Homo sapiens: one gene and its partner. Each later gene encodes a partner of the first gene's protein in a complex. Each region holds a gene or a part of one and is shown on either strand. Other genes may lie near its edges. A codon is read from its position in the direction of its gene.

The links.
Region 2: the proteins of YWHAB (region 1) and PEAK3 are in contact, whole or in part, in a cryo-EM structure (PDB 8DP5), measured with the Homo sapiens proteins. Residues at the interface, in NP_003395.1 of Homo sapiens: Val48, Lys51, Asn52, Arg58, Lys122, Arg129, Tyr130, Gly171, Leu174, Asn175, Val178, Glu182, Ile219, Leu222, Asn226, Leu229, Trp230; in NP_940934.1 of Homo sapiens: Arg66 (codon at 4,894), Thr67 (codon at 4,891), Gln68 (codon at 4,888), Ser69 (codon at 4,885), Leu70 (codon at 4,882), Pro71 (codon at 4,879), Thr72 (codon at 4,876), Arg73 (codon at 4,873).

Annotation. Positions count from the first base shown.
Region 1 is NC_000020.11:44,881,310-44,888,765, reverse strand, and holds the start of YWHAB (14-3-3 protein beta/alpha), read right to left. Parts: upstream 3,062-7,456; 5' UTR 2,880-3,061; intron 1,119-2,879; exon of another isoform or gene 1,024-1,118; intron 1-1,023. UniProt on the Homo sapiens protein: Adapter protein implicated in the regulation of a large spectrum of both general and specialized signaling pathways. Binds to a large number of partners, usually by recognition of a phosphoserine or phosphothreonine motif.
Region 2 is NC_000019.10:2,274,107-2,279,230, forward strand, and holds the end of PEAK3 (protein PEAK3), read right to left. Parts: intron 5,008-5,124; coding exon 4,478-5,007; intron 2,384-4,477; coding exon 1,574-2,383; 3' UTR 525-1,573; downstream 1-524.

The DNA of each region.
Region 1 (7,456 bases):
ACTAGAAAAACTGGATTGTTCACAAGCTTGCTTCCTGATGCATGCTAGCAATTATCATCCCTACAGGCCAGAATGGGTATATGCTCCACAATAAATTGTCCTGTATCTATCTTCAAAAATAGCTAATATTCCCATTCAAACGTTTACTTTATTAGGATTGGTGTAAAGAAAAATTAAGGACTAAATGGTGTTCACATAAAACATATACATGTGCTGTCTCTACCACATGCAGAAATCTATAATATCATTCCTCAGAACCAGATCACCTGGTTTCATTCCTGGTTCTGGCACTTACCTTGCGCTGTGTGTGAGACCTCGGGAAAATTATCCTTCTCAGTGCCTTAGTTTCCCCATCTGTAAAATGGGGCTAACAGTCTTACCTTTCATTGGTTGTTATGAAGACTGAGCTAATATGCTTAAAGTGCTTAAAAGAAAGCTTAGCACACAGTAAGTACTGTAAGTGGTAACTATTATTATAGACTAATTGTCTGATACCACCTCATCAGTTGGTGAATAAATCACAAATGGATGGATTCTATATAAATGTCCATGAATAGCATATATGCTATGTCTAATCTATACACGTGTATATTCATGCAGATGGTCAATAACATCTATTGAACCCCAACTATATCCCAGATGCTTATTTTCATTATTGAGCTTGTCGCAACAAAAATATATCAAAAGCTGCATTACCATTTGTGCTATATAGACGAGAAAATGATTCAGAAAGACTGGATTTGCCTATATGCAAAATAAAGTCCTATAATAATATACCATTTTTTGAAAGCAACATGTGTACAAAGCAGGGTTTAGTGTCATCAGATGTTAACTGGAGAGAAAAAGCCATTAATAGTGAACTCTGATTAAAAAACAAACCAAAAGCTTATATTTAACAATTTACAGTTTATAAAAAAGGCTTAATGATAACCCTGGAAATAAGAAAACCAAGAACCAGAGATTAACATGCTGAAGATTCAGAAAGCTAGAAAATATTGCAGGCAAGATTTCAACCAAATTTACCTGACTCCAAGTCCAGTGCTCTTCCTGCTTCTCTATCCACAGCCGAATGGGCAAAATGCACTTTTTGTAGCGGCCCAAATCTCTGGAGACTCTGCCTAGAGAACCAGCATCATGGGAATTTGCTCAGCCTGGTTTTATAGAGGCTGCCTCCCTGATCTATAGCGCTCCAATTCTAAAATGGCTTCAATATAACAAGCACTGCAAGATGTGAAATGTACAAAAGATTACAGGGTAGGCGTCATACTCCAGGGGCTGGCAATCCATAAATATTTGCTACTGATGAATGAGGATATTCAGTTTGAAAAAAACTAGGTGTATAGTCTAGGCCAAATCACCTCATTTCTCATAAAGACTTCATCTGCAAGATAGGTGAATGGTTTCTTATCTCATTGGAAGGACAGGCCAGGAAAATAATTCTGCAGTTGCTACAGGATTATTAGCCTTCCATTTTGAAAGCCACACTTAAATTTCTAACTTAGGTCCAATAAGATTGACAGGTTTTACACTCACACACCGTGTGTTGCCAAGGACAGGGATCCAAGAAAAATGAGGGCTCAAACAAATGAGATATCCCTAAGTAAGAAATAGGGTACACTGGAAGCAGTCAAGAAGAAATTCACCAAGAACAAATACTTATACACATTTCCAAATGAAAATGCAAAAGCTGCAGTGTCCAGGTCTACAAACTGCATCTGTGTCTGGCTTCACATGAACTGACAGAATGAGAAATGCAGACAATTTTCATATTCTTATAAGTGCTTCACCTTTCTCTTTTGGTTCCCGAGGCTGATTTTATGTTCATAGCATCATCTTGCCAAATTCCATCTCCCACACAGGGCAAGCAAAATCAGGACCTGATGCTATCTAGCCTTACCAAAGAGAAATGCAATGAAGGCAACGACAAGAAACATGTATTTTACAGAAAGGTTGGCAAATTGCTTACCAAGGCTGCCACCTCTGAAAACCCCATTATATGGGAGTTCTCCATTTGCGGCAAAGATGCACTCACCTTCCCACCTCTTCTTCCCTCCGCTCCCCACCCCCCGACCAGGAAGCCACCGGGCAAATTTCAGACCGAAAAACGTGCTAACACACAATATGGGGGAATTTGGGGTAAAGACACAAAAGAATCTGGCATTAAATGACGGTAAATACTGTGAGAAAATACTCCGATTCTCACCCCCTGATATTTTTTCCTGGGGATCCGGCCTGACTCAGTAACCGGCTCCAACAAACAGATTTTCTTGATTCAAACCCAATTCCCTTCCTAGGGAATCTTGGGTCCTGCCAGGCTCCATAACCAGTGAAGGATGATGAAATGGTTTTACTGCAAAATGGGAGGGGGTTCCCCCACTGCTGTCTCCCAAGGTTAAACCCCTTACTCATCCAGGAGGAGCCAAACACGGGGACTGGGGCTAGAAAACTCATCCGCGTTTGATTAAATTTTAATTTCTGGAAACCAGAAAGCACGGAGCAGAGGTGACAGGGCTGAAGGGGACGTTCTTGCCGACCAAGACGCAGGGAGGGGTCGCGTGGGGCCCGAAGCAGATAGTGAGGGAGGGTCCGGGATCCCCGGCTCCGCTGTCCCTTACGGCACAGTACGGAGTTGCACCCCGCCCGGCCGGCAGGACCTCAGGCGGCCCGAGCCTCTCCAAGAGGTAAAGGGCCCGGCCCCGGAAACAGGGAGGGGCCGCTGCGAGGTCTGGCCTCGCCGCCGGCGGCCGCGCGGAGCGAAAGAGGCAGCGCGCCGCTACCCCACGGGGCCCACCCACTGGGCCGCCGTCGTCGCAGCAGCCAGAGAGGGGCTTCGAGTTTGGGCCCCCGGGGGCCCCGGTCGGACCCCGCGCCGCACTCACCGTGGGAGGGCTGCAGGGAACAAAGACCCTTCCGAGCGAAGCTCCGAGCGAGATGACCTCTTCCTTCCTAAGCCCACTACTCAGGCGGCGGCAGCGGTGCCTGCAGTGGCTGCAGCGGCGGCGGCGGCGGCGACTACCCCGGCTCCGGAATCGGCGGCGGCGGTGGCGGTAGCTCCACTTCCGCTCCGATCGCCACTTCCGCTCCGGTCCTGGCCGCGCCCCGCCCCAAACCGTGTTCTCATTGGGCAAGCGAGGCACGGGGTTGCCACGGCCCCACGGGAGGGGCGCAGACGGAAGGGAGGAGGAAGAAGAGCGAAAGGCAGGGTTGCAGGGGCCGGGGCAGGGCGGATGGCCGGGGGAGGGACCCAGGAGGAGGTGGGCGGAGAAGAAGGAAATGGGGCGGGGGAGCGGGAAAAGGAGGTGGGAGGAGAGAGGGCGGAGCTGGGGGTGGTCAAGATACGGGCTGTGTGGGAATAAGGAGGACTAGGAGTGTGGTCTGGATGGGGATTGCCCTTTCTGCTGGGACTGGAAACGCGCCAGGGCCAGTCCCGGAGATTCGAGGTTTAGCAGTTCCCCCTCCACCCCGAAAGTAATCCTCACTGGGTCGGAGGCCGATGTCAGTCCTCTTACTGTGTGCTTTGGTAATGCTGGAGCCAGGGAAGAACAGAAATTGCTCATCCCTCAATGTTCATTTAATCCTTTCAATCCTTCAGGGTACTTACCTTTTCCTTCTTTGGTAGACTGAAGAGGCCACGTGAAGTGCCAGGAATCCAATGCACAAACGTCTTTTTAAAAAACCTGTGTAGGGTCGAGCGCAGTGGTTCGCGCCTGTAATCTCAGCACTTTGGGAAGCTGAGGTGAGAGGATTGCTTGAGGCCGGGAGTTGTAGGCTGCAGTGAGCTATGGTCATGCCACTGCACTCCAACCTGGGAGACAGAGTGAGACCCTGTCTCCAAAAAAAACCCACAAAAATCTGTGTACATGATTTCTTCTTTAAGATGCCCCCTCGTTGAGGAAGTTCAGGGAAGGAAACAGGCCTCCATGGCTCCCCTCCCCTCCATGACTGCTCTCACAATTACCAACATTCTACTCCTCTGAAGGTAGTTGATTTTGTTTTGTTTTGTTTTGTTTTGTTTTCTGTTTTTGAGACAGAGTCTCTTTCTGTCGCCCAGGCAGTGTCACAATCTTGGCTCACTGCAATCTCTGCCTCCCAGGTTCAAGCAATTCTCCTGCCTCAGCCTCCTGAGTAGCTGGGATAACAGGTGCATGCCACCACTCTCGGCTAGTTTTTGTATTTTTAGTAGACACGGGGCTTCGCCATATTGGCCGGGCTGGTCTCAAACTCCTGACCTCAGGTGATCCACCCGCCTCAGCCTCCCAAAGTGCTGGGATTACAGACATGAACCACCTCGACCGGCTTCAAGGTAGTTGATTTTTAAACTCAGTCCTTCAAAATGCCTCTCGCCTTCCCTCTCTCCTGTTCATTTATTCTTTCAACAAATGTTGAACAGGCTTTTTGCTTAGTGCTGGAGACACAGCAATGAACAAGGCAGGTGGGGCCCTGCTGTCTTGGAGTTTGCAGTCGGGTAGGAGAAAAAGCCAAGTAAATAGGCCTTTGCCGTCTTGCCTTTACCCTTACTTAGCTAAATGACAGACTTCTAATTCACCATTTGGTCTCAGCCTCGCCCGTCAACTGCCAAGTGATCTTTTAAAAATACCATTCTAATCGTGTCCTGTTCTTGCTTAAATTATTTAGTGTGCACTCAGACCTAGATGACAATATATAAGTTCCTTGAGTGTGACAATCAGGGTTCTCCAAAAGCTGCCCTTATCCTTTAGCTGCTATTTCTCCCCCATCGTAAATACCCCAATTCAATTGGATGATTCCTTACCCTCCCAATATGCCATCTCCAGTATTTCTAAGCAGTTTGACTTAGTTGCCAACACTTTTTTAAACTGAAAAGTTTCTGTGTGAACAGAAATCTGCCTCTCTGCCTTGTCTGGTAACACTGTGTCCACATTTCTGTGTGGCAACAATTGGCTGAAGCCAAGGAGTGGCTGCCTGTTCTAGACTGGGCATGGACTTTCCCAAATGCCAGGGACCCTTCTCGACCTGAGTCTGCTTTTGTCACTTATGTTATCTGTCATGTAGGCATGTGTGCCAGTGACCCCTGTACTGTGCCACCTTTTAAGTTGAACAAGATTGAGAACGTGTTGTGTAACGTAAACAGCATGGTTTTGGGTCAAAACCATTGGATTTGAATCCTGGAGAGGTTAGTGCAAAAACTTCCCCATGAGGATCGTCTTTGGCAGACCCTAGACCAGTAATCTAGAGACTACTCAGGCTAAGTAACTTTTAATGTCACAAGACTGTGCCTTATGCCGTCATCCAGAAAATAGCCTAATGGACCAGAGGGCTAATAATGATTATACCACAAATGACATCAACAGTGCATTGAGGGAACAGAAGTGCCCTTTGTCAGGCATTCCTAGGTGCCTGTTAAAGGGTTCAATGGATTAGCTTATTTCACCATCTCTGCATTCTAGGCCAAGCGTCAGCAAACCACAGCTATGAACTGACAGCGATACAGATAAATGTTAAAATACAATGTGGTAGGTGCAACCATAGAAATAAATATATGTGCAGGGTATTATGGGAGCTTGGGAGAAGAGCACCTAACCCATCTTGGGAATATGATGGGAGAGCAGGAAAGATTTCCTTAAAGAAGTGATACTAGAGCCTTATATACTGCAGTGAATCTTTTTTCAAATTATAGACTTAATTTTTAAAAATGTTTTTGTAGAGACAGAGTCTCATTATGTTGCCCAGGCTGGGCTCAAACTCCTGGCCTCAAGTGATTCTCCTGCCATGGCCTCCCAAAGTGCTGGGATTACAGGTGTGAGCCACTGTGCCTGGCCAATAGACTTAATTTTTTAGAACAGTTTTAGGTTTACAGAAAAATTGACCAGATATTACAGAGTTCCCACATTCCCTCTCCCTCCTCCACACAATTTCCCCTATTATTAACATCTTGTATTAGAGTGGTACATTTGTTGCAATTGATGAGCCAGTATTAATACATCATTATTAACTAAAGTCCGTAGTTTACATTGGGGTTCATTCTTTATGTTGTACATAGTTCTATAGGTTTTGACACATGCATAATGTCATGTATATAAATAAAAGTTTTACTGTCCTAAAAATCTTTGCTTCAACTCTTCATCCCTCACTCCCTCCCCTCACCCCAACCTTTGGCAACCGCAGACCTTTTACACTATAGTTTTACCTTTTCTAGAATGTCATATAGTTACATCATACAATATGTTGCTCGCTTTCTTTCTTTCTTTCTTTCTTTCTTTCCTTCCTTCTTTTTTTTTTTTTTTGACAGGGTGTCACTCTGTCACCCAGGCTGGAGTGCAGTAGTGCAATCACAGCTCACTGCAGCCTCGACCTCCTGGGTTCAAGTGATTCTCCCACCTCAGCCTCCCTAGTAGCTGGGACTACAGGCGTGTGCCACCACACCCAGCTAATTTTTGTATTTTTTATAGAGATGGGGTTTTGCCATGTTGCCCAGGCTGGTCTTGAACACCCAGGCTCAAGCAATCCTCTTGCCTTGGCCTCCTAAAGTGCTGGGTAATAAAGTGTGAGCCATTGTACCCAGCACATATGTCGCCTTTTCTGACTGGATTGTTTTATTAAGTAATGTGATTTAAGTTTCCTTCATGTCTTTTTATGATTTGATAACTTATTTCTTTTGATTGCTTAAAAAATCCCCTTGTATGAATCTACCATATTGTGTTTATGCATGAACTTATTCTTTTTTTTTTTCCAGAGAGAGTCTCACTCTGTTGCTCAGGCTGGAGTGCAGTGGCATGATCTCAGCTCACTGCAACCTCCGCCTCCCAGGTTCAAGTGAGTCTTGCCTCAGCCTCTCAAGTAGCTGAGATTATTGGTGTGTGCCACCATGCCTAGCTAATTTTTTATTTTTAATAGAGACAGGGTTTTGCCATGTTGGCCAGGCTGGTCTCAAACTCCTGACCTTAGGTGATCTGCCTGTCTCGGCCTCCCAAAGTGCTGGGATTACGGGTGTGAGCCACCACACCTGGCCCATTAACCTATTCTTAAGGATTGACTTGTATCCTCCAGAAAGATATGCTGAAGCTTTCACCCTTGGAATCTGTGTATGTGACCTTATTTGGAAAAGGGCTTTTGCAGTATAATCAATTAAAATGAGGTCATTCGAGTGGGTCCTAATCCAACGTGGCTGGTGCCCTAAAGAAGGAGGAAAATGCCATCTGAAGACAGGACACACATGGGAAACAACACATGACAATGGAGGCCGAGACTGGAGTGATGAGCTGTGAGCCAGGGAACACTAAGGATTGCTGGGCAGCACCAGAAGCCAGGAAGAGGCATGGAAGGATTCTACCCAGAGTCTCAAAGGGAGCAAGACTCTGCTGTCACACTGATTTTAGACTTCTAGCCTCCAGAATGGTGAGAGAATATGTTTTTGTGGTTTTAAGCCACCCAGTTTGTGGCCCTTTGTTATGGCAGGCTTAGGGAACTAATAGACCTA
Region 2 (5,124 bases), on another chromosome or scaffold:
AGGGGCATTAGAGCTGAGGCCATGCAGGATGAATAGGAGTATGAAGCAGAGTAGAGGGGGCTGTTTTCTGGTGTAAAAAACAACTTGGGCAAAGGCGTGGAGGCTGGAAAGTAACCTCCAGGGATGAACGACATGGGGTTGGAGACTCTGAGGAGACTTTGGAAGAGCCCTGTATGTATTCTGAGGCACTGGGGAGCCATGGGAGGTGTTTGAGCTGGAGAGGGACCTCATATCTGGGGTTGGAAAGATCCTCCCAGGACTGCCATGGGGAATGGAATGGAGGGGCAACTCTGAGTCTCCAGGAAGGAAGCCACAGGCAAGGGCAGTGCAGTGTGTCAGAGGCATAAAGGAAGACTCCATCCCCCTCCAGTGAGTCTCCTCTGTGCCTGTTTATTACATCATCCTGTGGTATTAAGTGAGCACCTACTGTGTGCCAAGCCTGGCCTTTGCCCCCAGGGAACTCACAGCCTTGTGGACAGTAACAGAGGAATAAATGCTCCTGAGAGTGGGCGGAGAACGCAGGGTAAGGAGCTAGCGATGGCCCAGAGTGGGCACCTTTATTTGTTTAGAGAAAGTGAAACTGTAGCCGGGCGCGGTGGCTCACGCCTGTAATCCCAGCACTTTGGGAGGCCGAGGCGGACGGATCACGAGGTCAGGAGATGGAGACCATCCTGGCTAACACGGAGAAACCCCGTCTCTACTAAAAATACAAAAAATTAGCCGGGCGTGGTGGCGGGCGCCTGTAGTCCCAGCTACTCGGGAGGCTGAGGCAGGAGAATGGCGTGAACCCGGGAGGCGGAGCTTGCAGTAAGCCGAGATCGTCTCAAAAAAAAAAAAAAAAAAAAAAGAAAAAGAAAGTGGAACTGGAACAGTATGGCAGAGGGAACAGCCTACACAAATGCTTGGGGGCGCGAAAGAAGTTGGTGTGTCACGGAGGAACAGGGAGGGAGGCAGGGTGGGCGCAGAGGGATTGAGGGGAGGTGGCAGGGAACCGCGGGGACTGTTTTAGGGAAGGTGAGTCCAGACCCCGCTGAGATGAGCTGGGTGTCTAAGGTCCCAGGGAGCCTTCCCTTCCCGTGACACCACCAAGCAATTCTCCACCAGGGACAGGGGCATTCACATGCCCAAAATCACTGGCCATCTTCAGCACAAGGGGGTGCTCCAGAGCCAGGAATGCCTCTGGTCCCGGCATTGGCCTCTCATGGAGACAATGACAGAACCCACGCGGAAGAGCGCCCTGGCTGCTGGGGAAGGCAGAACACAGAGAGACATTGATCAGCGGGGTTGTCCACACCTGGAAGTGGCGTGGGGGCCCTGGCTTCAGAGAGCTGCTGCCCAACACAGGAGGCGCTGGCCAGCCCCCAGCCCTGGAGGGGCAGCTGCATTCCTGGGAAGCCCTTGACCCACATCCCCAGCACGGGAGGGGAGGCTCTGGAGTGGGGCATTGCTCTCTCTGCTGCGCTCCTGGACTCTGCAGGAAGAGGGTGTCTTGGCTATCATGGAGACGCTGACCTCAGCCCCAGCCCTGCCTCCTGGGCAGGCCTGGACCAGGTGTGTTCGCCCTGGGTTGGGGTCAGTCCCACAGCAGCGCCAGGGCCTGGCCCATCGAGGACTCGGTGGCCTCGGCCAGGTATTCGCAACACAGCCAGTCCTCGAGGCTGGGAGCTTCCCCACCTGCGGCCCGCTCTGCTAGGCGCAGGACCAGCAGCCCGCGGCGCACCCGCAGCCAGGGCCCGAGCGCTCGGAGCCAGGGACCAAGCGGTGCTCCGCGGCCGCGCAGCTCAGGCCCGGGCCCCCAGAGCAGCGCCTGCAGCGCGCCCCGCGTCCGGGACGCCGAGGGCCGCAAGCGGGTCAGCTGTGCTGCCAGGAGCTCCAGGCCCGCGGCCAAAGGCGTGGTCGAGGGCGCAGCAAGGCTGAGCAGCGCTCGGAGGAGGCTGCCCAGCTGCGGCGCGTGGGGGCCCGGGGATCCCGGGGGTCCAGGGGGCTGCAGACAGACGCGGCCAAAGTCAGTGAGGAGCAGGCGTGGGGGCCCCGTCGTCGCACAGCCCCGAGGTGCCACCAGCAGCAAGTTCTCCGGCCGCAACTCGACTAGGGCCGCGCCCCACGCCTCCAGGAACTTCAGGGCCGCGCTCAGCTGCAGCAGCAGCAGGGCCACAGCCCACACGAACTCCTCCGGCGGCTGCGTGCAGGCCTCCGCCAGCCACTGCGCCACCGTGCGCTCTGGAACCTCGGCTGCCAGCGCCACTGCGCCTCTCCAGGGCGCCCCGGGCAGTGTGCCTTCAGGCACCAGGCCACACAGCCCCTGCAGATTGAAGTGTGGAGACAGGGAGGCCTGCAGCTCCAGGCCCCACGGGTGGGGCACGTCCGCCCCGGGCTTGGGCACCTGCAAGGCAGAGGGGGTGTCGGGGCCTGGATCACTGGGCCCCCCACAAGCACCGCCTGCCCCAGTGCTACCTGCCCCGAAGCCTCCCACGCACACCCCCAAACTGCCCCCACTACGGCTAGGGGCTGCCTGCATCCCTCCAGCAGCAGGAGGTCAGTGTTAATTTGGAAGTTAGTCACCAGTAAGGACTTTCAGGAAAGTTAAGCCAGGGAAGAAGATGTTCCTGGGCAATGAGTTCGAAAGCAGATTCCTGGGCCGGGCGCGGTGGCTCACGCCTTCCCAGCACTTTGGGAGGCAGGGGGATCGCTGAGGTCAGGAGTTCGAGACCAGCCTGGCCAACGCAGGGAACGCTCGTCTCTACTAAAAAATGCAAAACTAGCTGGGCGTGGTGGCGCGCCTGTCATCCCAGCTACTTCGGAGGCTGAGGTGAGAGAATCGCTTGAGCCCGGGAGGTGGAGGTTGCAGTGAGCCGAGAACGCGCCACTGCACTCCAGCCTGGGCAACAGAGTGAGACTCTGTCTCAAAAACAAAAAACAAAACAAAAAACACAAAAGCAGATCCCCGGCCAGAGAGGTGTGGGAGGGGTTTTGACAAGAGCTCCAAGGCCATACCCATGGCCCCATACTTTAGAAACATGGTTTCCTGGGTTAACTGCGTTGATTCACGTGTTAGTTGCAAAATAAACAAGTCTAATATGGTCTGGATCTGTGTCCCCACCAAATCTCATTCCCCAGTGTTGGAGGTGGGGTCTGGTGGGAGGCGACTTGGATCTTGGGGGTGGTTTATCATGAATGGCTCAGCACCATCTCCCTTGGCACTGTCGTTGGGATAACGAGTGAGTTCTCGTGAGATCTGGCTGTGTAAAGGTGAGTAGCACCTCCTCCCTCCCTTCCTCCTGCTCCCACCGTGTGAGATGCCTGCTCCCGCCTCGCCTTCCACTATGATTGGAAGCTTCCTGAGGCCTCCCCAGAAGCAGAAGCCACCAGAACCATGAGCCAATTAAGGCCCTTTTCTCTATAAATTACCCAGTCTCCAGTATTCCTTTTTCTTTTCTTTTCTTTTTTCTTCTCTTTTGTTTTTCTTTTTTGAGACAGAGTCTCACTCTGTCGCCCAGGCTGGAGTGCAATAGCCCAATTTTCGAATCTCAGCTCACTGCAACCTCCGCCTCCCAGGTTCAAGTGATTCTCCTGCCTTAGCCTCCAAGTAGCTGGGACTTCAGGTGCGCACCACCGCGCCCGGCTAATTTTTGTATTTTTAGTAGAGATGGGGGTTTCACTATGTTGGCCAGGCTGGTCTCGAACTCCTGACCTCATGATCTGCCCGCCTTGGCCTTCCAAAGTGCTGAGATTACAGGCGTCAGCCACTGTGCTGCCCAGCCTTTTTTTTTTTTTTTAGACGGAGTCTCGCTCTGTCGCCCAGGCTGGAGCGCAGTGGTGCGTTCTCGGCTCACCGCAAGCTCTGCCCCCTGGGTTCATGCCATTCTCCTGCTTCAGCCTCCCAAATAGCTGGGACTACAGGTGCCCACCACCACGCCCGGCTAATTTTTTGTCTTTTTAGTAGAAACAGGGTTTCACCGTGTTAGCCAGGATGGTCTGTATCTCCTGACCTCGTGATCTGCCCGCCTCGGCCTCCCAAAGTGCTGGGATTACAGGTGTGAGCCACTGTGCCCGGCCTTTTTCTTTTTTTTTTTTTTGAGACGGAGTCTCACTCTGTTGCCCAGGCTGGAGTGCAATGGCCCAATCTTGGCTTACTGCAACCTCTGCCTCCCGGGTTCAAGCAATTCTCCTGCCTCAGTCTCCCAAGTAGCTGGGTTTACAGGCGCCCGCCACCACACCTAATTTTTGTATTTTTAGTAGAGGCTGGGTTTCACCATGTTGGCCAGGCTGGTCTTGAACTCCTGACCTCAGCTGATCCGCCCGCCTTGGCCTCCCAAAGTGCTGGGATGACAGGCGTGAGCCACCGCGCCCGGCTCCAGTATTTCTTTACAGCAGTGTGAGAACTGACTCACAGAAAGGCCAAATGAAACAAGCCCTGGGTTATGTCTAAGATGGGGCACTGGGGACACCTCAGAGAGGGTGGGGCTGTGGGGCTCACCTTGGCGACCAGGATGTGCCAGGCGTCCTCGTGCGCGCGCACCACGCGGTAATACAGGGCGTCCCCGCTCTCTGCGCAGGGTGAGCTGTCTAGGAGGCGGAAGCTGTGGCCGGGGTGGCAGGGCCCGGGGTGGCCCCCCATGAGCCGGGCACGGAGCCGGGCATAGATGGTACGGAGGCCCTGCAGCTGCCGCGCAGCCAGTGCAGTGTGCACAGCCTCCGGGCTGTGCAGATCGCGGAGGGAGAGGCCCAGTGGGGCGTCAGCCGGGCCAAAGGTCAGCTCTGCAGGGAGACAGGCTGGTCCCACTGCAGCCTGGCTCTTGTCCACACTGTGGGACCCCAGAAAGGGTCTCCGAGGCGGCTGTACTTGGATGGAGCTGGGATGGAGGGTCCTGCGGGTGGGCAGTGACTGGGTCCGGGTTAGGATCTTCTTGGGCAGGGGTGGGGGCAGGGGCTCTGGGTTGGTGGAGAGGGACCCAGGGGTCCGGAGGCGGCAGGCCTTGGAGGGCAGCAGGTGGGCACGGATCTGACCTGCAGGGAGAGACAGTGGGGGAGGGTTGAGGACAGGCGGAGTGGGAACGGGACACGTGACTCCACCTCTCAGCCTCGGTTTCCCCATCTCTAACATGGAAGTAATGAGGCTGGGCG